Regions from separate parts of the Homo sapiens genome. Here region 2 is linked to region 1. A link means that fine-mapping ties the variant in region 1 to the expression of a gene that starts in the linked region. Tissue or cell type: whole blood. Region 1 holds a variant in brackets; the other region holds the start of a gene. All regions are shown on one strand. Distances are between the middles of the regions.

What was found. PIP is the estimated chance that this variant, and not a neighbour inherited with it, causes the effect.
Region 2: GRAMD1B starts here. The variant in region 1 is fine-mapped to the expression of GRAMD1B in whole blood (TOPMed, PIP above 0.99).

Annotation. Positions count from the first base shown.
Region 1 is chr11:123,456,467-123,469,261 of GRCh38, forward strand. All of the region lies in intron 1 of GRAMD1B (GRAM domain containing 1B), which reads left to right. Among named protein-coding and RNA genes, the nearest start is that of GRAMD1B, 33 kb to the left of the region's middle. The variant G/C (reference allele first, on the strand shown) is at 5,796.
Region 2 is chr11:123,423,643-123,436,437 of GRCh38, forward strand. GRAMD1B (GRAM domain containing 1B) reads left to right here and starts at 6,627. Exons shown (of 20, transcript NM_001387025.1): 1 at 6,627-7,524. The coding sequence starts at 7,151. LOC124902776 (a long non-coding RNA gene) reads right to left here and starts at 7,572. Exons shown (of 2, transcript XR_007062928.1): 1 at 7,305-7,572; 2 at 1,434-5,174. RefSeq lists silencers at 6,765-7,094, 7,205-7,254.

The sequences.
Region 1 (12,795 bases):
TTCCTGTTTGAAAAAGAAAAAATTGGGGCCAAGTGTGGTGGCGCATGCCTATAATCCCAGCACTTTGGGAGGCTGAGGCAGGCAGATCACTTGAGCCCCTGAATTTGAGACCAGCCTGGGCAATGTCATGAGACCTCGTCTCTACAGAAAATACAGAAAATAACCAGGTGTGGCCAGGCGCAATGACTCACGCCTATAATTCCAGCACTTTGGGAGGCTGAGTCAGGCAGATCACTTGAGGTCAGGAGTTTGAGACCAGACTGGTCAAAATGATGAAACTCCGTCTCTACTAAATATACAAAAATTAGCCAGGTGTGGTGGTGCACACCTGTAGTCCCAGCTACTGTGGAGGCTGAGGCAGGAGAATCACTTGAACCTGGGAGGCAGAGGTTGCTGTGAGCTGAGATGGCGCCACTGTACTCCAGCCTGGGCGACAGAGGGAGACTCTGTCTCAAAAAAAAAAAAAAAAAAGAAAAAGAAAAGAAAGAAAGAACTAGGTGTGGTGGCACATGCCTCATGCCTGTGGTCCCAGGTACTCGGGAGGCTGAGATGGGAGGATTGCTTAAGCCCAGGAGGTCAAGGCTGCAGTGAGCTGTGATGGCACCACTGCACTCTAACCTGGGTGACAGAGAGAGACCCTTTCTGAGAAAAAAAGAAAGAAAGAAAGAAAGAATTAGAACAGTTTATCCCTCGAATCCCTTCCTGCTGTGAAGTATCGGCTCATGATTTTATTAATAAAATTAGAGATTGTTATAAAATGATAACCTGGAAAGAGAGTAACAGTTAAAGGACACACTTATCAAATGAGCATACAGGAAGTGAACCAGGAAGCCACATTTCTGTGTCTCTGTTAGCTGCCTCTAAACCACGTTTGTTCTTAGACTGCTATTCTTTCCCCACTGTCCAGCCAGCGTCAGCCTACCCTCGTGGTTTAGTTCACGTGTTTTAGAATAGCCAGCAACTCCCTTCTTTCTCAATCTTTGTGTCTTCCACTTAGCCTTCAAACAGGCTTAATGGAAGATTTCTTAGCTTAGCGTCATGGGACTTTTAAGGCTAGACAGGGCCTATGTGATTGTCTAGCACACTCTGTTCATTTTACAGATAAGCAAACTGAAGTTCAGAACAATGGGGCAACTTGCTCTGTGTTCTACGGAGTCCATGACAGAGTCAGTGCTGGACCCAGCCTTATGAGCCTGGCTCTGGTGCTATTGCTCCACTGTGCTCCGTGCTCTATTTTCCACATATTTTATTTTATGTATTTGTTTTTTGAGATGGGGTCTCACTCTATCGCCTGGGCTGGAGTGCGCTGGTGCAATCACGCTTACTGCAGCCACGACCTCCTGGGCTCAAGTGATCCTCCTACCTCAGCTTCTGAGTAGCTGAGACTACAGGCATGCACCACCGCACCTGGCTAATTTCTCCACTTTTTTGTAGAGACAGGGTCCTGCTATGTTATCCAAGGTGGTCTTGAACTCCTGGGCTCAAGGAATCCTCCTGCCTCGGCCTCCCAAAATGTTGGGATTACAGGCGTAAGCCACCATGCCTGGCTGCCACATATTTTAAATAGATGAGTACCACTTTATGCATGACTCCACGATAAGTGCGTATGTATGCTACACAGAACCTAGTTGGAGTTCTGAGAGAGAGAGAGAGGAGAGGGGAGGGGATTAGGGGAATTGGCTTACATGATTATGGAGGCTGAGAAGTCCCACAACACACCGGAGACCCTGGGATGCTGGTAGCGTGGCTCAGTCCAAGTCTGCAGGCCTCAGAACCAGAGAAGCTGATGTTGTAACTCTCGGTTTGAGGCCAAAGGCCTAGAACTCAGAGAGCCACTGAGGGACAGAGAGAGGAAGAATATAATCCAACTCTGGCAGTTCCATTCACATATTCACCTTTTCTCAGTTTTTGTTTTCCAGGCCCCCAGCAGAATGGATGGTGCCCACTCACAATGAGGGCGGATCTTCCGCACCTAGTCCACTCAGACTCACATGCTGATCTCTTCTGGCAACATCTTCACAGACACGCCCAAAAATAATGCTTTACCGGGTTCCTAGGTAGTCTTTAATCCAGTCAAACTGACACCTAAAATTAACCATCACAATTACCTTCTCACTAAAATCAATCTGAGAAGAAAATGGTCATAAAGAATTTGATGCAAATCCCTTTTTTGATTTATAGGATGAACAGTATCCTAGATAAGGAAACAGTGAAAGGCTGTTTTGTTTTTTTTTTTTTTTCCCCTCCTCTTCATACTCCCCAATGTGAGTAATGGGCAAAAAATTCCAGGAGAATGGGAGCATTCTGAGTGATAAGAACAAGTATCTCTCAACATGTAGAGTGTGTATACGGGTGGGTTATTTTCAAATTTCAAGTCTGCAAATGGGTAGTTCCAGGTATGGCTTGGTGATTGAAGTGGAGGTTCTTTTGGGGCTAGTCCTTTGTGCTCCTGTAATTTCCCCCCAACTCTGAGTCTGAGCTCAGTGAGAACAATCACTTTAATGCTTAATGCACACCGTAATACACAGCGGAGTTAACAGAATATTCAGACAATCACAGACACAATGGCCTTCCTAGCCATGAGTTTGGAAAAGTGTTTCTAGGAGCTTGTTGTAGCAGAGGCTGTGTAGATGACAAAGAACATGCACTGCATTGTAGATGGGTTATAGTTATGGTGACCAGCCCTTGGAGTTAGGGCAGATTGGGGTATTTGATTGCAAAGAAATAAGACACTTCTATATATTTTTTTTTAATTTGCTGATCATGGGAAAATCTTCATGAACCCTTATCTTCTTTTTTTTTTTTTGAGATGGAGTTTTGCTTTTGTCACCCAGGCGAGAGTGCAGTGGCATGATCTGGGCTCACTGCAACCTCCATCTCCTGGGTTCAAGCAATTCTCCTGCCTCAGCCTCCAGAGTAGCTGGGATTACAGGTGTGAGCCACCATACCTGGCTAATTTTCTATTTTTAATAGAGGTGGGGTTTTGCCATGTTGTCTAGGCTGGTCTCCAACTCCCGACTTCAGATGATCCACCCACCTCGGCCTCCCAAATTGTTGAGATTACAGGCATGCACCACTGTGGTCGGCCATATTCATGATTTAAAGGAATTGAAGATAAAAGAATTGAGTTTGATAAAAAAGAGAGAGAAGAATATTATTTTCTTCAAATACTGACTTTTAAGTGAGATAGTGTGCAAAAAATCCATATACTAGGTACTCAAATACCTGTTAGTTGACCCTTCCCCTATGATGTGAACTGGTTATTCACAACTATCTTTATACTTTAAGTCCTGTTCCTAAACACACACTGAGGTTCTGGAGGGCAGGGCTGGGTCTTAGGTAAATTTGTTCTGCTACCTTCTCACTGGACACCTGGCTCACCCAAAGCTTGCCTCTCATCTGTTTTCTGTGTACAGATTGCCATTCAAAAAGTGTTTTCTGAGTGAATGAATTATTTACTTTATGGAGCATCAACATCCTTTTTATGTTCTTGTCCATTTTTATGTCCTTGTCCTCACCCTTGTCCCTTCAAGTTCAGTGGGTCCCAGAACTGAACTTGAAGAGAGTTAATTGGATATAGGCCAGGAGTGTGATTGGACATACGTGTGTGTGTGTTTCATTAAAATTCTCAAACTAAAAATAAATGGTTTGTGGATTAGTCAACTTCTGTTTTCTTCTGCTCGATATCCTGAATTATCCAGTACCTGTTGCCTCCATGCTACTGAAAAGTGACCATGTGTGGTATGACAAGCTTATCAGAAGGCTGTCAAAGTGCTTGGCAGAGAAGACATGGAGTTTAATCCTGAGTGGAAAATGGCATTGTGGAAACAGATGAATTATAGTAGATGAATATAGTAGAAAATATAGTAGATGAATTAAAGTACATGAATTATCTACTTTGTGGACCATCAAAATCCTTTTTATGTTCTTGTCCAAGTTCAGTGGGTTCCGGGACTGAACTTGAAGAGGGTTAATTGGATATAGGCCAGGAGCGTGATTGGGCAGATTTGTGGCAATTACACCTAGACACCGTGACTCCAGCCCCAGTCAATGCGGGGATTTCTCCCCAGGCCCCCCAGGGCACTCTGTGAGTGTTAATGACCAGAGTTTTTGGTTAGGACTGTTTTTATGTCTTCCAATTGGAAAAAACAAGATAATGCTTTTACCATAAGCCAGTTTTTCCCGGGGCTAAGGGCAAATGAAATTGGATGGTGGTTGGGTCAGCAGGATTTGGGGGGCGGACAGGAGTGGGGCAGGGAAGGGGAGGCAGGAAGCTGAAAGGATTCTTTCTGGAAAACAGCACAGCTTGCGGGCTGCTTGTCCTTGAGCTCCGAGGTCACTAGAGCGGTTGGTCTTTGATAGGGTTTCTGCATGAATCCCCTGCTCCTACGTTTCCTTTGTCCCTTTAGGACCCAAGAATCCATCTGCCTTCCCAGGTGCATCAGCTTCTCCTTTCCTTGGGCGCCTCTTTCCTGGGCCGTCCAGGAAGAACACAAGGCTCTCTGTGTCTTTCCCACCTCGTGACCTTTTGGAATTCACATATTTTTGGCTTTTTAAGAGGTTTGGCTTGTGTTGACTAGAGGGAAACAGGTGATAGCAAAATTAATAGCCAGTTGGGAAGCCATAGTCATAAAAAATGTCTTAAAAACATATTGAGTCTTAATTGAGTTTGGTCTTCAATCAGATGTGAATGGACCAGTGCTCCTGTTGCCTGGGCTGCTTCTAAAATGTTCTTGTCAGTTCAGTCGTCTTTCTGGGGAATCAGCTGCCCCGACTGACTCCAGGTTGGCTCCTAAATCAAGCTATGTTGACTTCAGCTGGCAGAAAAGCCAAGCTGGCACTGCTACCAGGACTGTTTCCTAAGAGTCCCCCAGGGCACCAGCATTTCTGTCTGCAGCTGGCCGAGCCCTTGTGATTCCTGTCCTTGTGGCTAAATGAGGTGGTGCTGGCCTCTCTGGTTCCCAAAGACTCCCCCTTGGGCTGCAGGCCAAACGTCACTGGCCTCCTAGAAGTCTCTCCAGCCCTGGCTCTAGCTCTGGGAAGTCCTGGCCTATGCCTTGGCACACTGCTCTGTCTTTTTTGGATTGTCTATGGTTTCTTCCCCAGCTGGTTGTTGAGACAGCTCTACTTTTTGTTGTTGTTGTTGTTTTGTTTTGAGACAGAGTTTCGTTCTTGTTGCCCAGGCTGCAGTGCAATGGCGTGATCTCGGCTCACTGCAACCTCTGCCTCCTGGGTTCAAGTGATTCTTCTGCCTTAGCCTCCCGAGTAGCTGGGATTACAGGTGTCCACCACCACACTCGGCTAATTTTTGTATTTTTAGTAGAGACGGGGGTTTCACCATGTTGGCCAGGCTGGTCTCAAACTCCTGACCTCATGCGATACCCCCGCCTCAGCCTCCCAAAGTGCTGGGATTACAGGCATGAGCCACTGCGCCCGGCCAAGATAGCTCTACTTTCAAGTGCAGGTTTTTTTTTTTTCTGGTATGGTCATTTGTTTATTTCTTTTTTTTTTTTTTTTTGAAATGGGATCTTGCTCTGTCGCCCAGGCTGGAGTGCAGTGGCACGGTCTTGGCTCACTGCAAGGTCCACCTCCTGGGTTCACGCCATTCTCCTGCCTCAGCCTCCCGAGTAGCTGGGACCACAGGCGCCCGCCACCATGCCTGGCCAATTTTTCTGTATTTTTAGTAGAGATGAGGTTTCACCATGTTAGCCAGGATGGTCTCGATCTCCTGACCTCGTGATCTGCCCGCCTTGGCCTCCCAAAGTGCTGGGATTACAGGTGTGAGCCACCGTGCC[G/C]GGCCAGTCATTTGTTTATTTCTATGGTTTCACCTGTGGCTTTGTGACCTCAGTGGCAGGTGCCATCCCCTGACAAACTGCCTCAAACTGGGCAGAGCAGACTCGTTACTTCTTGTTTCAAGGTTTTCACTTGCCTTGGACTTCCCAGATGCTCTTGCTTTCTAGCTGAGGGCTGCCACCTGCAAAGCAGAGACGGCTGACACTTGTGGCAGAGTGAACATTCAAGCTCAGCTCAGCCCCTGAGTCCCAGCCCAAGCTCAGAGTCCCTTCAGTCTCATCAGTGAGGTTATCCCTGCCACCCACCCCTTCTCCAAGTGAATGCTACGCTCCAGCACTGGAGTGTGCTTAAGGTGAAAGAATAAAGAATTCAGGGACAAAAAACCTTAAACTGAAATCCCTGTTTCTCAGATGCTTGAAGGCAGCATGCTCGTTAAGAGTCATCACCAATCCCTAATCTCAAGTAATCAGGGACACAAACACTGCGGAAGGCCGCAGGGTCCTCTGCCTAGGAAAACCAGAGACCTTTGTTCACTTGTTTATCTGCTGACCTTCCCTCCACTATTGTCCCATGACCCTGCCAAATCCCCCTCTGTGAGAAACACCCAAGAATTATCAATAAAAAAATAAATTAAAAAAAAAAAAAAAAAAAAAGAAATCCCTGTTTCTTAGCTTACCAGCACAGTTTGCTCATAGACGTGCCATGTATCCCTGTGAAGTCTTATTTTCTTCATCTTTATTATTTATTTATATTTATTTATTTATTTTAAGATGGAGTCTCACTTTGTCACCCAGGCTGGAGTGCGATGGCGCGATCTCGGCTCACCGCAACCCCTGCCTCCTAGGTTCAAGTGATTCTCATGCCTCAGCCTCCCGAGTAGCTGGAACTACAGGCATGGGCCACCACCACGCCTGACTAATTTTTTATATTTTCAGTAGAGTCGGGGTTTCACCACGTTGGCCAGGCTGGTCTCCAACTCCTGGCCCCAAGTGATCCACCCGCCTTGGCTTCCCAAATTGCTGGGATTACAGGCATGAGCCACCGTGCCCAGCCTATTTTCTTCATCTTTAAAATGGGGATCAGAGTGTATACACTTCTTATTTACCTGATGAGGGTAAAAAGTTGGAAGCATATACATGGGAGCACTTTGTAGATGGGGAAGAAGTGTTTTAATGGGAAGGTTTATTCCTAGTATTAAATACAACATATTAGTATGCAGTATCTTGAATGAATTGAAAAAAGCAGCCAGAGTTTGCACTAAAGGAGGTGTTCTCTGATGTAGCCAACAGGTTCTCTCCACCACACGGGCAGAGCTACCGTCTCACTGGTAATAACTGTGCCAACTTGGATTTGTCATTAGTCCTATGGCTCAAAGGAGACAGAGCTCTGGGTCAGCAGAGAAAAAAGTCAATGAGTTAATATTTGAATGCACCAAGGGAAGGGACAGGCCTCTGTGTGACACAGCGCCCAATAGGCCAGGGTGGAAGATATGGATCATATAGAAGGGAAATGAAGAGAAAGTGGAGAGCACAACATGCACGAAGTTGCAGGAATGAATGTGCATGGGAGATTTGGGGAGCACGAGCCCCAGAAAGGAAAACTGTGTAAAGGCCTCAGGAAGAGCTTTCTGCTGGGGAAGTCAGTTTCATGTAGTAAGGCCTTGTGTGGCAGGCAGAAAACTTTGGACTGTATTCTATGACATTATAGGAAGACTTCAAGAGACTGTAACTTGGGAAGAGACTTGACTAGAGCTGTTTTAGAAGATAACAGGGGTGGGCCATGCCTGTAATCCCAGCACTTTGGGAGGCCAAGGTGGGAGGGTCGCTTGAGCCGAGGAGCTCAAGACCAGCCTGGGCAACAAAGGGAGACCCCATTTCTAAAAAAAAAAAAAAAATTTAGCTGGGTGTGGTGGTGCACACCTGTGGTCCCAGCTACTCGGCAGGCTGGGGTGGAAGGATTGCTTGAGCCTGGGAGTTGAAGACTGCAGTGAGCCATGTTCATGCCACTGCACCCCAGCCTGGGAGACAGAGCTAGCAAGACTTGGCCTCTAAAATAGTAATAATGATAATAATAATAATAACATCTAGGCACATTAGCATGCTGGGGCCAGCTGGCATCCACTTGTAGACGCCGATTGTGCATATCATTTCCCAATGCCAATTTCACCGATAGCAGAAATCAATCATGGTGGGAGTATACATGGCAGAAATTGGCAAATAATATAAATCAGCCCCCTCCACCAATCTAGTTGTTAAACATTTGTCAGCACAGATAAAGGACCGTTTCAATAGAGTGGGATGTCAGTAGTTTTCAAACCTGAGATGCCTGTTAAAACTCCTTCAGGCTCCAACCCAGGCCCCCTGAATCAGAATCCAGGATCAATGAGGGAATGGGAACCTTTTTCTTTTCTTAAAAAGTTTCCAGGTGATTCTTATGCAGCCAAGGTGGTACTGATATTTGGACTAGAGCAAGGATAATAGGAATAGAGAGGAGAGGATGGATATAAAAGATGTTTCAAAGGTGGGAGCTAATATAACTCAGTGATAGATCGAAGGTAGGGAGTGGAGGAGAGAGAACTGCTGGAACTATTTCTGTGTTTCCTTGTTTGTACAGCTAAGTGGAGGGATGGTGATGCAGGTGACTGAGCTAAGGAAGGCAGATGGAAGTTGTTGGGGAGAAGTGAGGGTGTGGGAGGCGGGAAGGGGTAGTTTTGGACAGGCTGTGCGATGAGCCTAGGGAGGTAGGGTTTTGGTGACATCCTGTAAACAGCTGGATATGGGGGACCGGAGCTTGGTGGAACACTAGGAGTTTTAGATACAGGTTTGGGAGTGAACATGTGGCTTTTTGTCCGAGCCATGGATATGGATGGCATTGCTGGAGGAGAATGTGTCATGTGAGAAGAGAAAGAGACTCTGGATGGAACTCTAGGGGCAACTTTTCAGAGGTTGGTAGGGGAAGAGAAGCCAAGTAGAGATCAAGCAAAGAGCGGTATGTATGTTGAAAGCCCAAGTCGATGGCTCCTTAGAGAGAGGAGTTCCTTTAGGTGTTTTCGCATTTCCAGAAGCCTAACAGAAACCACACGTACATTTTTCTGTAACAAGACAACCTAAAACATTCCTTTGTTTGGCTTGAATTCTATCAATCCAGTGTGGTAAGACATGTCCTTGGAGGCTGACCTGAAGCTCTGAATGGTAGTTGTGTGTCTTTCATTAGAAACACACTTGGGGCGTGGTGTGGTGGCTCATGCCTGTAATCCCAGCACTTTGGGAGGCAGAGGCAGGCGGATCACCTGAGGTCAGGAGTTTGAGACCAGCCTGGCCAACATGGTGAAACCCCATCTCTACTAAAAAAAATACAAAATTAGCCGGGTGTGGTGGTGCATACCTGTAATCCCAGCTACTAGGGAGACTGAGGCAGGAGAATCACTTGAACCCGGGAGGCGGAGGTTGCAGTAAGCTGAGATCACACCACTGTACTCCAGCCTGGGCAACAAGAGTGAAACTCCATCTCGAAAGAAAAAAAAAAAAAAGAAACACACTTAGGAATATTGTTTGAGGGTTCTTGGTGGAGAGGAAGTTGGGACATTGTAGGAAACAGAAGTGAAAGCTCTCTGTGTGTACTGGCCTGACTCTGTGAGAGGAAATGGATGGAGAAAATACTCGAACTCCTCATTAAACTGGAGCAGTTTAGTTAAAGGGCTCAAGATCATACTGATTGTTGAAAATAAAGATTTGGGCTGGGCATGGTGGCTCACGCCTGTGATCCCAGCACTTTGTGGGGCCTACGCGGGCGGATCACTTGAGGTCAGGAGTTCAAGACCAGCCTGGCCAACATGGTGAAACCCCATTTCTGCTAAAAATACAAAAATTAGCTGGGAGTGGTGGTGGACGCCTGTTATATCAGCTACTTGGGAGGCTGAGGCAGGAGAATGGCTTTAACCTGGGAGGTGGAGGTTGCAGTGAGCCAGGATTACAGCACTGCACTCCAGCGTGGGTGACAGAGTGAGACTCTGTCAAGGAAGGAAGGAAGGAAAAGAAAGAAAGAGAGAGAGAGAAAGAGAAAGAAAGAAAGAAAGAAGGAAGGAAGGAAGGAAAGAAGGAAGGAAGGAAAAAGAAAGAGAGAGAGAAAGAAAGAAAAAGAAAGAAAGGAAGAAAGAAAGAGAAAAAGAAAGAAAGGAAGAAAGAAAGAAAGAGAAAGAAAGAAAGAAAGAAAAGAAAGAAAGAAAGAAAAAGAAAGAAAGAAAAAGATTGACTGACTGATTTGGGCATAAAATGGATTCTGGCTTGCCCTGGGCTTAAGAACTTTCTGCAGCTTTTCAGCACTGACTTCTTTCTCCAACATGGATACTCTGCATTGGGAAGCAAGAGATTTTCCACAGGCAGGAAGGGGACCCAGGGAGTAGGGGTGGGGGAAAGTGAGGGGATGGTGCGTGTGTGGAGAGTGGAGGGAGGCTGGCCTTGAGGCTGGTCCAGGGTTTTGACCAATTCTTACAAACTTCAAGTTCTGGGAAGCAACTTGGTTGACCACATTACCTTCTGAGTAAAGGTTTAGTAAGGGATCTGGTTAATTTGTATTTATTCTCTTGAGAGAGCTGAAGATTTCACTGTGAAGTTAAGTAGTGATTGAGGCCAAGGAAGCTAGTAGGATGTGGGAAACTAGAAAAAGGTGGTGTGCTCCTTTACCTAAGAGCAAGTGAAGAGAGTTAAAGCTGACAGTTTCTCCTTGCCCCTTTTCTCAGAACCCATTTGAGGAATATAATGGGGTAAGTATAATTATTTTAATTATGTGTGGTGATAGGCCTAGAATTTTATTGTAGGTGAGGGATCATTTACCCTTTGTGAAAAAGGATAAAGAATATTTATTTATTTTTCCTAGCCAGAGCTTCATGATCTGTATTCACGAGAGCTAAGGATTGGCATGAAAAGTTAAAGCTTATAGATAGGCTGGGTGTGGTGGCTTTCGCCTGTAATCCCAGCACTTTGGGAGGCCGAGGTGGGAGGATTGCTTGCACCTAGGAGTTTAAGATCAGCCTGGGCAACATAGGGAGACCCTGTCTCAATTTTTTAAAAAATTAATACTCATAGATAATTCAGAAAGAAACAAACAAAAACGTTGTAGCCTTGGTTTTCAACACCTTTTTTTTTTTTTTTTTTTTTTACTGACTTTCACTGGTTGTGCCTAAATGGAGAGCCATATTCTTTCCTGCCCACCTTCTCATGGAGGCGCTGTCAGGCTTGAGATGCAGCTTCCTCATGTTGGATAACTGAGAATTGGACCACAACTTTGACACGGGGGCAGGAAAGAGGAGCCCTGGCATTAGGAAGATTCTGGCGGGTTTTGTTACAGTGGCTTCTTTATGGGGAAGGTCCACATATGTCTAATTCAAGTCGGCATCGCCAGATGTCTGGAACCAATGCCTAAAACATAGTTGGTGGAAACATGGATGGATGAATGACATATCAGGAGTGGTGGGTTCCCTGAGGTCACGGGCCATGCCTTACACATCCAGCACGGCCTAGCAGGGTCCTTCCTTCCTTCCTTCTTTTTCTTTCTTTTCTTTTCCCTCCCTCCCTCCCTCCCTCCCTTCCTTCCTTCCTTCCTTTCTTTCTTTCCTTTTTTGTTTTTGATGGAGTCTCGTTCTGTCGCCAAGCTGGAGTGAAGTGGCGCAGTCTGAGTTCACTGCAACCTCTGCCTCCCGGGTTCAGGCGATTCTCCTGCCTCAGCCTCCCGAGTAGCTGGGATTACAGGCATGCCCACCACACTCAGCTATTTTTTTGTATTTTTAGTAGAGACAGGGTTTCACCACGTTGGCCAGGATGGTCTTAATCTCTTGACCTCGTGATCCACCCGCCTTGGCCTCCCAAAGTGCTGGGATTACAGGTGTGAGTCACCGCACCCAGCCTCAGGGTACTTTCAACATAGATGTTCAAAAAGTATGCACAAGGAAGGAAGGTGCAATCTGTGCTGATTTGAGAGTACTCAGCAAGGCGTCTTTCTGGGCAGACCAGTGAGTACTCAGTGGAAGTGGAGACTTTTACAAATACATCAAGGGAGGATAGGGCTAGATATTTGCACATTCATCAGATATGTATTATACACCTAATATGTGCTAGGCACTGTGGGTGGAAAAAAATGACACAATGGGACCATCGCTCTCAAATAATTTATAGTATGGTAGAAGGTTTAGGGAAATGAATCATTAATCGCTGCATCCCAAGGAGTATGATAATTGTTATGATAAAGGTTAGTGCAGGCCAGGTGCGGTAGCTCACGCCTGTAATCCTGGCACTTCGGGAGGCTGAGGCAGGTGGATTCCTTGAGTCCAGGAGTTCAAGACCAGCCTGGGCAAGATGGTGAGACCTTATCTTTACAAAAAATACAAAAATCAGCCCGGTGTGATGGTGGCACAACTGTATAGTCCCAGCTACTCAGGAGGCCGAGGTGGGAGGATTGCTTGAGCCCGGGAGGCAGAGGTTGCAGTGAGCCAAGATCCTGCCACTGCATCCAGCCAGGGTGACAGATTGAGACCCTGTATCAAAAAAAAAAAAAAAAAAAAGTAGTGCAGGGTGATATAGGACCATAATGTGGGTGGTGGTCACCAAGGAAGATTTACTACTTTTGAAGAATAATAGTAGCTATAATATTGTGTGTCTACTCATCTCTCCAAGTATGTGTGGGTGTTTATTTAATTCTCCCAAAACCCCAAGAACATAGATGCTATTGTCACCCCCATTTTATAGAGGTTGGACATCAGCAGCGTAGGTGGAAGAGTCGACTTGAACTCAGGCAGTCCAAAGCTGGGACAAAGAAGGGTGAGAGAAAAGGCTCTACCAGGCCAGTAGAAAGGCAAATTAAAAGGCAGAGGCAAGTAGAAGGGCTGGAGTGGAGAGCGGAGGTGACGTGAGGGAGCTGGGTAGAGAGGCAATAGCCAGGTTATGAGGCTGTTACTGCTCAGATAAGGAGTTGGAACTTGCTCGGAAATCATGGGAAGGCTAAAGGATT
Region 2 (12,795 bases), 33 kb before region 1:
TTAATGGAATTATCTCTGTCTTTCTTCTGCCTGACTTCATTATAGGATATAGCATCATTTATCTCTTTGAAATGTAGTATACTTTAAAAAGTATAAGTTTTAAAGCAAAGAGACCCTTGTTTAAATTTGTGTTCATCTTCTACTAGCTGTGTGAACTTGGGCAAGTCACCTTGTAAAATCTCTCATCATCTTGAAATAGGGCTTTTGATATTTATTTCTCAGAGTTGTTGCAAGAGTCAGCTGGGATTTTGTGGGTGAAGCACTCAGCACAGCGCCTGGCTTAGTGTAGCCATGCAATAAACGCCTCCTTTCTCCCCTCGGCTTCCCAGTGATTGCTGTTTCTTGGTTTTCTTCCAGAGGTTCCTCCTTTTCCTTGCCTATCTCCTCTCATTCCACATTTTTCCCCTGCCCTATTTCAGATTTTCTCCATCTCTTACCAGAACTATTTGCCATTCATATGGTCAATATTCCAAAAATATTGGCTGATTGAATGATAGTCTCCTAATTGGTTTTTATGGTTCCCATCTGCTTTTTTCTCCAATTCAAATTTCATGCTGTCACCAGAGTTGATGCTTCTCAAATACAGGTTAGTAATGCAGTCCCCCAACACCAAAAAAAAAAAAAAAAAGAAAAAAGAAAACCACCAAACCCAAACCAATCTGAATAGCAACCCTTGCCTAAAGAATAAAATCTATAATTCAACACTAGGCTAGGTGTGGTGGCTCGCACCTGTAATCCCAGCACTTTGGAAGGCTGAGATAGGAGGATCCCTTTGGACCAGAAGTTCAAGACAAGCCTGGACAACATAGCAAGACCCTGTCTCTAATTAAAAACAAACAACCAACCAAAAACCCTTCTGCACTGCAATCTGACCCCTCATTTGTCCAGCCTCATTGTCTAATCCTGTATGTCTCACCCTATGCTCTGACTTATCTTTTCCTATTTTCAAAACCTCTTTGTGAGTTTTCACTCCTCAATGCTTTTATTCAAACTGCTAACACCCTATTCTTTTTTATTGAAATTCTGACTTGAAGTATTAACTTAAATACCCATTCCTCCATAGGACCTGCTTAGACTACCTCTTTTCCTCTAGTTAAAATTTATCAATCTTTCCAGTCACACCTCTTGTGCACTTGTATTTTGCACTTAATTAATTCTGCTTTGAGGGATCATGTGCTCCAATGCACCATGTGTATCTTATTTATCTAGCTATATCCCAAGGACTTCCTGAACAAGGAGCTTTACACAGTGTTCTAGCGTAACAACTACTTGTAGAATTAAACTGAGTTGAAAATCAACAAGAATAGTCCTGTTTCCTACGAAGGGTATTATAAAGGAAACTTATACATAACAAAGGCTAACATTTATGGAGCACTTACTGTGTGCCAAACTCTGTTCTAAGTGCCCTACACAGCACTAATGCTCACAATCACTCCAGCAAGGAGATGCTATTTATTTACTTAATTTTTCAGATGAGAAACTGAGTTGCAGAGAAGTTAAATAACTTAACCGTAATAAAACTGCTAGCAAGTGATGGAAACAGGTCCAAAACTCAGGTGGCTTGATTTTGGGTCTGCACACTCAATCACTAGTCGGTAGTTAGTATAAGCTGATGATATTTTGCAATGCTTCTGAGGAAAGCAACAGCAGAAATTCCAGCACATGCCACCTGCTTTCCTTGGGATGGGCAGCCAAGGACAGGTGGGGCGACCTCAGAAAGTCTTTTGCAGCCCTGGTTTGCACATAAGTCCTTGCAAGATTTAGAGGACAAGAGATGATGTCCTTCTGTGCCTTGGTATCCTTGGTGTCAAGTACAAGGGCAGCCAAATATTGTGCAAAACATTCTTCTTTGACGCCTAAGCCTTTTGATGAGCGATTAAACCAAGGAGGCTTATCTGGTGACAGTCCTTCTCCTGAGGTGACGTCACTGCTCACCCTGGCCCCTGTGAGGGCTGTTGGAAACAAAGAGCTGACCCTGTGTACTCCCCAAGGTTGAGAGCACTGCCCAGGGCTCTATTCTCGGAAACTGAGTCTCCATCAAAGTCCTGAAGCATTTTCTCCCTTTTTCCTTGGAAGGAGAAGCTGGATGTGGTGGTTGGTCAACTGTGGTTTGATTTAGGTTGTATTTAACCAGCACCAGCCTCCTCCTCCACACTGCTTCTCTAACCACACCAATTCAGTGCAGCATCCTCTGACCCTTCTTAAAGTAGTGAGCCCCTCCCTGGGGAAATGAAGGGAGGACTCGTGAAAGAAACAAAAGGAGATACCATGGGGAGGAGTTTAAGTTATTCCCTCCAATTCTTTCTCCTGTCTTCATCCCCGAACCCTCACTTCCTTGCTTCAGCACCATCCTGGTAATTGATCCCTGTATTTCTAGTTCACCAGTGCAAGATATTAAAGCTATTTGTGGGTCTCAGGGAGGTGTTTAGCATCCGGTGATCAAAATGCCTTTGAGCCAGTAACAGGTCAGCTCAAACAGACTTTGTTTTAGGTGTAAGTGAATTGCTTCTACTTTAAAAAGAAACAATCTGGGTCTTAGAGACCCACAGTAGTAGGGTGGGCTGGGCCTTTAAGAGATCATCTCTTTCCTGCCACTGCCTCTAAGTAGGCTCCAGTTACCTTTAAAAGACCTACAGAGAAAGCCATTCTCTACCCAGTCTTAGTCATTCAGGCCAGTCCTTAACCAGCCTTACACTCGGTAAATGTTTATCATCTATCCCAAATCCCCCATGCTGCACTCTACAGAAATGCATTTCCTCTTGCTCAGCAGCAAAATGAGAGCTGCAGAGTGAAATCTGGCCATCCTTCATTGTGTGTTTGAAGACAGTCAACATTGCTCTCAGCATCATCCACGTTTCTGTCCGTATTTCCAGCTTCCCTGCCAGCCTCAAATTCCACTTCTTCTATGCTCACTGCCTGCTTCTTTCCCTCATAATGGGCCAACCGTTGGGATTGGCCGTTCGAATGTTGTGTAGGGGAGAGACTCTGTGTCCCAGTGTTGAGAGTGGGGATTGTCTGTCTTGCAACAACAGTGTTGTGGGGAGACATTCCTGTGTCTTTGGGAGTTCCCTGCCTTGGCATCCTGGAGCAGGTGCAATAAGGTGTCCGGGGTGCCAGCGCCTTCCAGTTCACATTTACTTGGATGTGTACCCAGGAGAAATCTAGTCTGGAAGCTACTATGTTTCACTAAAGTTTTCCCCTGGAAATTGAATAATAATAGTAGTTTATGAGTCTCCAGAAGTAATAGACAGGTGTTGGGTGTCTTGTGTCTGTAGGAAAAGGGAGCTTGTGCAGCTGAGAATAAACAACAGTTGCTTGGTAATATGACCTCCTTTCATTTAAAGTCAGAGGCCTGGCTGCAGGTGGGGAAAGGGGAGGCTGGGTTGTTCTGGTTACCACCTGTCTGGGGAAGCGGGGAATGGGGGCAAAGGTGAGGTCTGTTTCACAGAGAACTGTGCGGTCGCTGAGAGCCAAATATTGGAGAGAAGAAATATGGGAGTGGGGAGACTTGGGGAGCAAGTGCAATCGCTGAGATTCTGACGCAGGGCATGAAAACTCTTTGGTTCTGATGTTGGCACCAGCTACTTTGAGAAATTGTTTCTCTACACTTTTGGAGGCCTCTAAACTGGCTTCAGAAGGCATGAGTTCCAATTCTGGCCTTGTCATTGATTAGCCATCATCATTTATCTGTGACCTTGGATAAACTACTGAATCTCTCTGTCCCACTTTCATCAATTGTAAAGGCCGCTGGGAAGACACAGTGTGATGTATGAAAGCTCTTTCCAAAAGTGTAAAGGTCACCATACACATAACAAGCACAGGATACTGGAGAGAATTAAAGGAAGGAGAAACTTGATTCTTTTCTCAAGGAGCTTATAGTCTTAACAGTAATGTTGGCTCACAGCTGTAGGGCATTTCATATTTCAAAGCAGTGCCTCATTTATTATCTTACTTGCCAGAGCCATGGGCAACAGAAACAGCTGGAAAGGGCTGAAGGATGTGTTTTGAACAGGGTTTTAACGGTCAAAAGGGTTATGGCTTGAAAAAAAGAAGGGACTGCAGGTGCAAGTGAGTAAGGACAGCGTTCAGGCTAAGAGAGCTCAGGGTATCTGCTTCCCAATCAAGTGAAACATTTTAGATTCCTGCTTGGAGGTTTTCCCTCAGGCCGGGTGAAATGTAAATGATCACTCTTAGCCACTGCTGTGCCCAAGGCTTGAATTAAATCTCACAGGATTTCAGTTCCAGAATCTACTGTGAGTGGGAAAAGTGGCTGAAGTGTGTGGGAAGAGGGTGCTGGTGGCTTTTCTTCCTTGTAAGAGGTATACACTTAAATTCAGAGTGCCCAGAACAAACTTAAAGCTTCCTCCCTTGTTTCTTCTCCCTCTTCCCAAGCTGCCCATAGAATCTTCTGGCCCCTGTCTTGTGGACCATCCTTTTGTGTTTTTGGCCTCCAAGCGAATGGTGGTGTCCTGGCTTCCTTTCTTCCCATAAGCCCCTGAGACCCTCATCTTCTATGTCAAGAGCCCGCCCAAAACTCAGGTTCCTTGAACTGGGAAGTTATCAGATCCCTTGCAAAACACTCGTCCTTGGAGGAAGTACAAGGCAGTGAACAAACTCTGTGGAACTTGGCTTAGCTCCCGATCCTGAAGTTTGGAGTTACAGTGCAATCTCCTCAGCATCCCTGGAGCCGGAAGAGGTGACCTTGGCAGGCCTGACACCTGATGGCAAGGGGTTTCTGCTTTCTGTGCTATGTCCAGGAGTTAAAGTAGAGTGAAACCAAATCACTCCTGAGAGGGCCAGTGGCTGGATTTCAGAAACGGGGGCTGACATTCCAGGGAGTCATTTATGGGAGGGCCTGGCCTTGGCTCTTCAGCCGCAGTATCTCTCTCCCTGAGGAAGAAATATTTCCCTTGGTTTCCCAGCCTCTCAAAAGTTGTGTAATGTCAGGATGCCTTGAGCTTTTCCATACTTGACAAGTGTCATTGCAGAGCTTGGTAGATCCATAGCCAGCTGTCATCCTTGATGTCTTGCTGAACTGCAGGGATGTATTTACTTGCAGTGAATTCTTGTGATCTTTAGGGATGTGAATTTTCCTCAGCTTCGGGACACTTGTGAAATGTGACTTTTGTCCTGGCACGGAAGCTGGGCATTGGCTCCCAGATGGAAACTGGACTCTGAGAGAGGCAGAAAAGAAGGGTGGATCAGATTGTGGACTTCATGGTATGTTCTTGGGTGCTTCTCATGATCTCTTTGAAAGTTACTGACCAGGCTGGGCATGGTGGCTCATGCCTGTAATCTCAGCACTTTGGGAGGCCAAGGTGGGCAGATCACTTGAGGCCAGGAGTTTGAGACCAGCCTGGGCAATATAGCAAGACCTCATATCGACAAAAAGAAATAAAACTTAGCTGCGTGTGGTGGTGCGCACCTGTACTCCCAGCTACTCAGGAGGCTCAGCTGGGAGGACAGCTTGAGCCCAGGAATTCAAGGTTGCGGTGAGCCATGACTGCACCACTGCACTCCAGCCTGGGCAACAGAGTGAGACTTTGTCTCTTAAAAACAAAACAAAACAAAACAGTTACTGACCCAAGAGACAAATGCATTGGGCTGGGGTTGAAGGAGGAGAATGGCTGCTACAGCCCTGCTCTAGGAGCTGGGCTGGGTTAGACTCAGTGCCCACAGAGAGCACCTAAATAGGATGGATCGGTTCTAGGGTTGATGATCTCTTAGGGCCTGGGTCTAGAGAGTGAGTGTGGTTCAGCACATCTTGGGATGCTACCAGGACTGAACCAGACTTCCTAGGTTCCATGACATGGGGACATACTGGATTCTGTGACTCAGTCCATGGCAGGCTGAAGCAGAACTGAATCAGCCCTCAGCAATGTAAGGGGGGGTACCCTCGACTCCCTGGGGCTCTGTTGGATGCATTGCTTTGTGGGTGCTCACCGACTCCTCATTTCATTCTTTGCTAGGGACGCGGCTATGGTACTGGCAGCTGGCTCATGTACAGGGTTCAGGCCCCATTTTCCTTACTGGTCCTGTGTCCTTTGTCTCTCAGACCCTGTTGTCTGTCTTTCCTTGGTATGTCATGTCTGGTATCCTCAGCTCACGCCGCCACGGGAGAACTGTCCTCTTCTCAGCTTGTCATTTTGGAAGCAGCCTCCAGCAACCTTGCTTTCCTCCTCTGACTATACTCCGGCCTGCAGTGCCACTACTCACGCCCCCAAATAATTTAAACTGCCTTTCTTAGGAGACAAGAGCTAGTTGAAAAGTCTCCTCATTTTCCTTCAACCCTGTATCATGGGTGGCCTGAGAGAGTGAGGACTGAATTCATTGACTCCCCTTTCTCTGCACCCCCCACCCCCAAGGAAATAGCCGAGTTCGACTAATGGGAGTTGCCTGGCCAATCGTTGCCCTGAGAAAGTTTGGTTTGTGATCCTATTTCAGTAGGCTGATTGGAGCAGCCTTTACTTGGAGGTCGAGTCCCTCCCCGAGGGAATCCGTGTACAGTTACACTAGCGGTCGCTGCCAGTGCTAGCCCATTCAGGATAGCCCCCCTCACCCCGCCCCCAGCCCCCGCTCCTCCTCCTCCTTTTTTGTTTTTATCCAGTGTCTCGCTTCCTCTCTCTCTCTCTCTCTCTGTCTCTCTCTCCCTTTCCCTCCTACCACTGCCTCTTCCTCCCGCTCTCTACCTCCCTGCAGCGCCAAGCCGGCTCCCCAACCTGGTCTGCTGAACGCAAACCGCTGAGAGTTTGCTGCACCGCCCCCTGGGGCCCCTGGCTGCCGAGTCCCGCTAAGGCAAAGACGCCAGCAAGCGAGGAAGCGCAGCGGAAGAAAAACAAGCGGGCGCGCGAGGGGAGCCCCAGGAGGGCTGCCGAGTGGCTGGCAGGCGGCTCCCGCCCCTCCCGGGTGGCCTCGCCGGCGGCTGACGGCCCGGAGGACGCGCGCTCCGAAAAGTTAGACTCCGGGCGGCGGCGCGCTACGCCGCGTCCCCTCGCGTCCCTTCCTCGCTGCGCTCCGGGAAAGGAACTTGTTCCTTCGGCCCCAGGATTGGGGAGTGTGCCGCGGGGCCGAGGGTGGGGAACAGCCAGAGGGAGACGCGAACCAGGCCGCTGGCGGAGGGCTCAGGGGGAGCGCAGAGGCGACGGCCCCCATGCCGGCGGCCAACATGATGGAGAACCGGCCGCTGCCCGCCCTGCAGGTGCCCGAGCCGCAGGGTGCGCCCGAGGGCAGCCCGGTCTGGTCCAGTTCGTCGACCCCCACGCTTCGCCGCCGGCGCTTCAAGATGCGCCGCATGAAGAACGTACAGGAGCAGAGCCTGGAGGCCGGGCTGGCCCGGGACCTGCCCGCCGTCTTGGCCCCCGGCAAGGAGTTCCTGCAGCTGCCGTCCATCGAGATCACGCCCTCCAGCGACGAGGACACCCCGTGGTCCAACTGCTCCACACCCAGCGCGTCCCCGCGCCGAAAACGCTTCCTCCTCCGCAAGTGGCTGAGGGTGAGGGAGCGGAAGGAGTGCAGTGAAAGCAGGTACGTCCCCGTTCCGCCCGTCTCCTTCCCTTCCCTCCCGTCCTCTCCAGAGCCGTCCAGGGCCCCGGGGCATTCTGGGGGAAACGTCCTGGGGGAGAACAGGAGCCCGTCACCAGAGGCGCTTCTGGAGGGCGCTGCGCCTGGTCCCAGGGATGGTGGCATTCAGCTTCCACGCGTGCCACCCGCTCCCCAACTCAGGGTGAGGGGCTTCATGTTGCACGACACGTTTACGTGGGGCTTTACGCTGCATTCCATCTCCCTTGATCCTCGCAGCGAAATAAATAATAAAAATAATAACAGCTAATAGTTATTGAGCCCTTACCATGTGCGGGCCACTATGTTGCGCACTTCATGTACCTCCAGATTTCATCCCTACGCAAACTCTCTGAGGTAGGTATTACTATGGCTCCCTTTCTACAGAAGGAGATAGTAAAAGGCCAGAGAACAGTTAAGTGGTTTATATTTCAGGACTCCGTTTCAATCTTATTTTATGTTTGGCCACACCGGATTGCCTTAACTGGCTCACTTGTGTGGAAGTGAAATATTGACATTGAGTGAGTCACATTTCCTACCATATCAGAGTCTTTAGACATCGATACCTACAAGACTGTGGTTTGTACCAGCTAGTTTTTTGCCTAGGTCAATGTGGCATCTGGGTAATGGGAGAAGGTTGAGCTTCCCTCACGTAGAGAATTGCTGCAGGGCGCCCTAGAGCAGCTCTACACAGCCCTGGTCAGGACTGCTGCTTCAGGAAGTTGTGTCTGAGCCAAGCCCCTTGCCTGGTGGAGGGCAGGGAGTCCTCACTTGTTCATCGGTACCACGAATCCTACATATTTACTTTGAGACTTTAGGGTCCTGTCTCTTAATGGATTTGTGTTCTTGTGCGGAGCAACTGAGTCATTGATCACTTTCCCTGGAATTCCTTCTCCAAATCTGTTCAATTACATTGATTTCAATTCAGTAAGTACTTACTGAATATTTCTGTGAGCTCAGTCTAGTAACAGCTAATAGTGGTGATGTTGAGGAGGGTGTGGGGGAAGGATAGGTAGAGTAAGGGGTTGTAGAGGCTGAGAAGGAAGATGAGGGGAGGCTTGTATAAGAAATGAACACCTGGGCACAGTGGCTCACACCTGTAATCCCAGCACTTTGGGAGGCCGAAGCGTGTGGATCACTTGAGGTCAGGAGTTCGAGACCACCCTGGCCAACATGGCGAAACTCCATTTCTGTTAAAAGTACAAAAATTAGCTGGGTGTAGTGGCAGGCTCCTGTAATCCCAACTACTTGGGAGGCTGAGGCAAGAGAATCGCTTGAACCTGGGTACAGGGGCTGCAGTGAGCCAAGACTGTGCCACTGCACTCCAGCCTGGGCCACAGAGTGAGACTCTGTCTCAAAAAAAAAAAAAAAAATTGAAGACCTGTGGGAGCCATTGGAAAACATACTGTGCTGTGTGGTACTGATTGTACTAGAAAAGAGAGAGTTCTGGAGAAGTAGAGGAAGACTTCTTGAAGGAAGAGGCTGACACCATGACAAATACAGATGGGTAGTAGAAAACAGCAGGAAAAGAATGAGGTTGGGTGCATAAGACTGGCTGAAGGGAACAATATGAAGAATGGCAGGAGAAACAGGATGAGCCATGTGTCTTTGCGGGGTGGGGACTGAGGAGTAGGATCCGTTATGCAGAAGATGGGCATTTTGGGCCTTCCAGAGTTTATCTTTTCTGTTTGCAACAACTGAGCATGGTTCTCTCAGCAGGTGCAGATACAGAGCTTTGTTCCGTGGATTTTTGTGGACGCTGGGGATAGAAGTTCTTTCTGTTTGGTACTTCATCCTGCTACCCTTTTCACAGAGTAGAGGGAAATGGGGCAAGCTTGGTGGGAGCTAACCTTGAACTAAAGTAGTTTGTCAGGCCAGGGGCGGTGGCTAATGCCTGTAATCCCAGCACTTTGGGAGGCTGAGGCGGGAGGGTCACCTGAGGTGAGGCGGGAGGGTCACCTGAGGTCAGGAGTTCGAGACCAGCTTGGCCAACATGGTGAAACCCTGTCTCTACTAAAAATACAAAAAATTAGCCAGGTGTAGTAGCGGGTGCCTGTAATCCCAGCTACTCGGGAGGCCAAGGCGGGAGAATTGCTTGAACCCGGGAGGTGGAGGTTGCAGTGAGCCAAGATCGCGCCATTGCACTCCAGCCTGGGCAACAAGAGCGAAACTTCATCTTAAATGAATAAATAAATAAAGTAGTTTGTCATGGCTTGTCGGCTTTTCCCTCCAATGTAAAAGAAACTAAAAGAGACCTTCTTTTGATCTTGAGATTCTGCCATATATACTGAGGACAAAATATGGTAAAAAGAGCCGGGTGCAATGGCATGGCCTGTATTCCCAGCTACTTGGGTTGTGGTGTGAGGATCACATGAGCCCAAGAGTTCAAGGCTTTAGTAGGCTATAATGGTGCCTGTGAATAACCACTGCATTTCAGCCATGGTGAGACCCCCACCCCCAACGCTTAAAATGTTACGTGCGTGTGTGTGTGTGTGTGTGTGTGTGTGTGTGTGTCTTTGTGTGTATGAAGAAAAAAATCTTGCATTGCTGGCTAGGATGGGGATGACAGTAGATTTGGTTAGATTTAGGAAGGTATTCCTGGTTTCGAGAGTTGTCTATGTGTGTAGTGGAACCTTCATTTTGTTGGATTTGGGGACATATCCTTAAAATTTGGCAGGATTTTCATCTAGATGTAGTTCAGGCAGTTATTTTAAGTGGTGACTTTTGGATTAGAAGAACCTATGTATCAGCCGGGCGCAGTGGCTCACGCCTGTAATCCTAGCACTTTGGGAGGATGAGGCAGGCAGATTGCCTGAGCTCAGGAGTTAGCCACCAACTTGGGCAACACGGAGAAACACCGTCTCTACTAAAAATACAAAAATTAGCCAGGTGTGGTGGTGGACACCTGTAGTCCCAGCTACTCGGGAGGCTGAGGCAGGAGAATTGCTTGAACCTAGGAGGTGGAGGTTGCAGTGAGCCGAGATCTCGCCACTGCACTCCAGCCTGGGCAACAGAGTGAGACTCCGTTTCCAAAAAAAAAAAAAAAAAAAAAAAACCACCACCAACAAAAAACAAGAACATATGTATCTGAAAAGGCAGACTCTGGATTCAAATTCAAATTCGTGTGACTCACATCTACTCTTAGCTACTGTTATACTGCCTTCTGTTGGAATCTATTTGGATTGTGTGTAAAACAAAGCCCCATCATTTTTAGGCCTCGAAGATGAAAGGCTTCCTTCCAAGAAAAGCAGCAATCAAGTGAATAGGTGCTCGTAGATACCACCAAGTGGCCTGAGAAGGAATTGGTGGCGGGGTGTGGTAGCTCATGCCTGTAATCCCAGCACTTTGGGAGGCTGAGGAGGCAGATCATTTGAGGCCAGGAGTTCGAGACCAGCCTAGCCAACATGGCAAAACCCTGTTGCTACTAAAAATACAAAAATTAGCTGGACATGGTAGTGCGCGCCTGTAATCCCAGCTACTCAGGAGGCTGAGGCATGAGAATTGCTTGAACTTTGTGGGCAAAGGTTTCAGTGAGCTGAGATCACACCACTGCACTCCAGCCTGGGCGACAGAGCAAGACTCCATTTCCAAAAGAAAATAGAATTGGCATTTAGAGGCAATGGAGTGCAGGGAACATTGGACTTAATATCAGAAGACAGCTGTATATTTAAGTTCTATCATCGATTAGCTATGGAGATTAGCTTGAGCATTTCACTTTACCTCCATGAGTTTCACCTTCTTCATTTGTGGAAGAGGATCTCTGTGGGTTAATGGGAAGTCTGAAGAGTAGTGAATGTGAAAATGTTTTGCAAACTTCCTCTTGCTGTGCAAGGGTGAAGGCTTATTTCATTACTCTGTGAGTCTCTCACATGGAATGGATGTTTGCTTAAAAGTATGAGGTTACATACTCACGTGTCCTGGAGCAGCACCTGAGCCTCCTCACACAATTCAGGATTTGGAAATGATGGTTGGAAAATGGCTCTGCTCTGGCCTGGATTAGGGAGGATTAGCATACCAGGCCCAGCATGACGTCTCCACATTCCCCACCCCAAATCTCCTGCTCCAAAAGAGAGAAAAACACCTTTCAGGCTTGCTATGAAATTCAGCGTGATGTGGTAGAAGTTAAGTGGCTGAGAGGGCCATAGCTTGTGGATTTCTTTTAATTTTTGTTTTTTCATTATTTGTTTCATTATTTGTTTGTTTGTTTGTTTTTTTACTTGTCACTGACTTGAAGCTCAAGCTTGCGGATTTTCACTGCACAAAGTTGAAAATATGAAGAGGATTAGGAGACCCTTTTCTTCTCCTTAAACCCTAGGAAGGAAGAAGTGGAACAAATGGTAAAGACAGCATGGCTTACTAACTTTCCAGTGTTCACTGGAATACTCCAAGACCAATCATGTTCATCTTTGTATCGTCACAGCACTGTACCTGACCTCTTACAGTGATCTATAGATCTATAGATGTTTGTTGATGAGTTAATAATGAGTAAATAAATGATTCCTTTTTCTCTACTGTTTAAAGTGAAATTCTTTTATTCATGAGTGTGGGAAAATTTCCAAAAGGAGATGAGTACAGAGCTGAGTTTTTAAAAACAGCTTTATTGAGATATAATTTATATAATATACAATTCACCTATTTAAAGCATAATTCAGTGGTTTTTAATATATTCACAGCTATGTACAACCATCACCACAGTCAGTTTTTAAAAACGTTTGTTGCCCCACAAAGAAACTCATACTTTTTTTTTTTTTTTTTTTTTTTGAGACGGAGTCTCCCTCTCTCACCCAGGCTGGAGTGCAGTGGCTCAATCTCGGCTCACTGCAGCCTCTGCCTCCTGGGTTCAAGTGATTCTCCTGCCTAAGCCTCCTGAGTAGCTGGGATTACAGAAGCTCGCCACCACGCCCAGATAATTTTTGTATTTTTAGTAGAGACAGGGTTTCACCATGTTGGCCAGGTGGGTCTTGAACTCCTGACCTCATGATCTGCCCACCTCAGCCTCCCAAAGTGCTGGGATTACAGGCATGAACCACTGTGCCTGACTGAAACTCATACTTTTTGGCTAGCACCTTCACCCTCTCCATCCCATTTCCCCAGCCCTAGACAACCACTGATCTATAGAGAGCTGAGTTTTGAAGGGTTAACAAATGCCTATAGGTGAAAGCAGTTTGGATGTGTTGGCTTGAAGATAGAGATGGATGACCAAATGTGATCTTGTTGAGGAATGTGGAAAAATGAAGG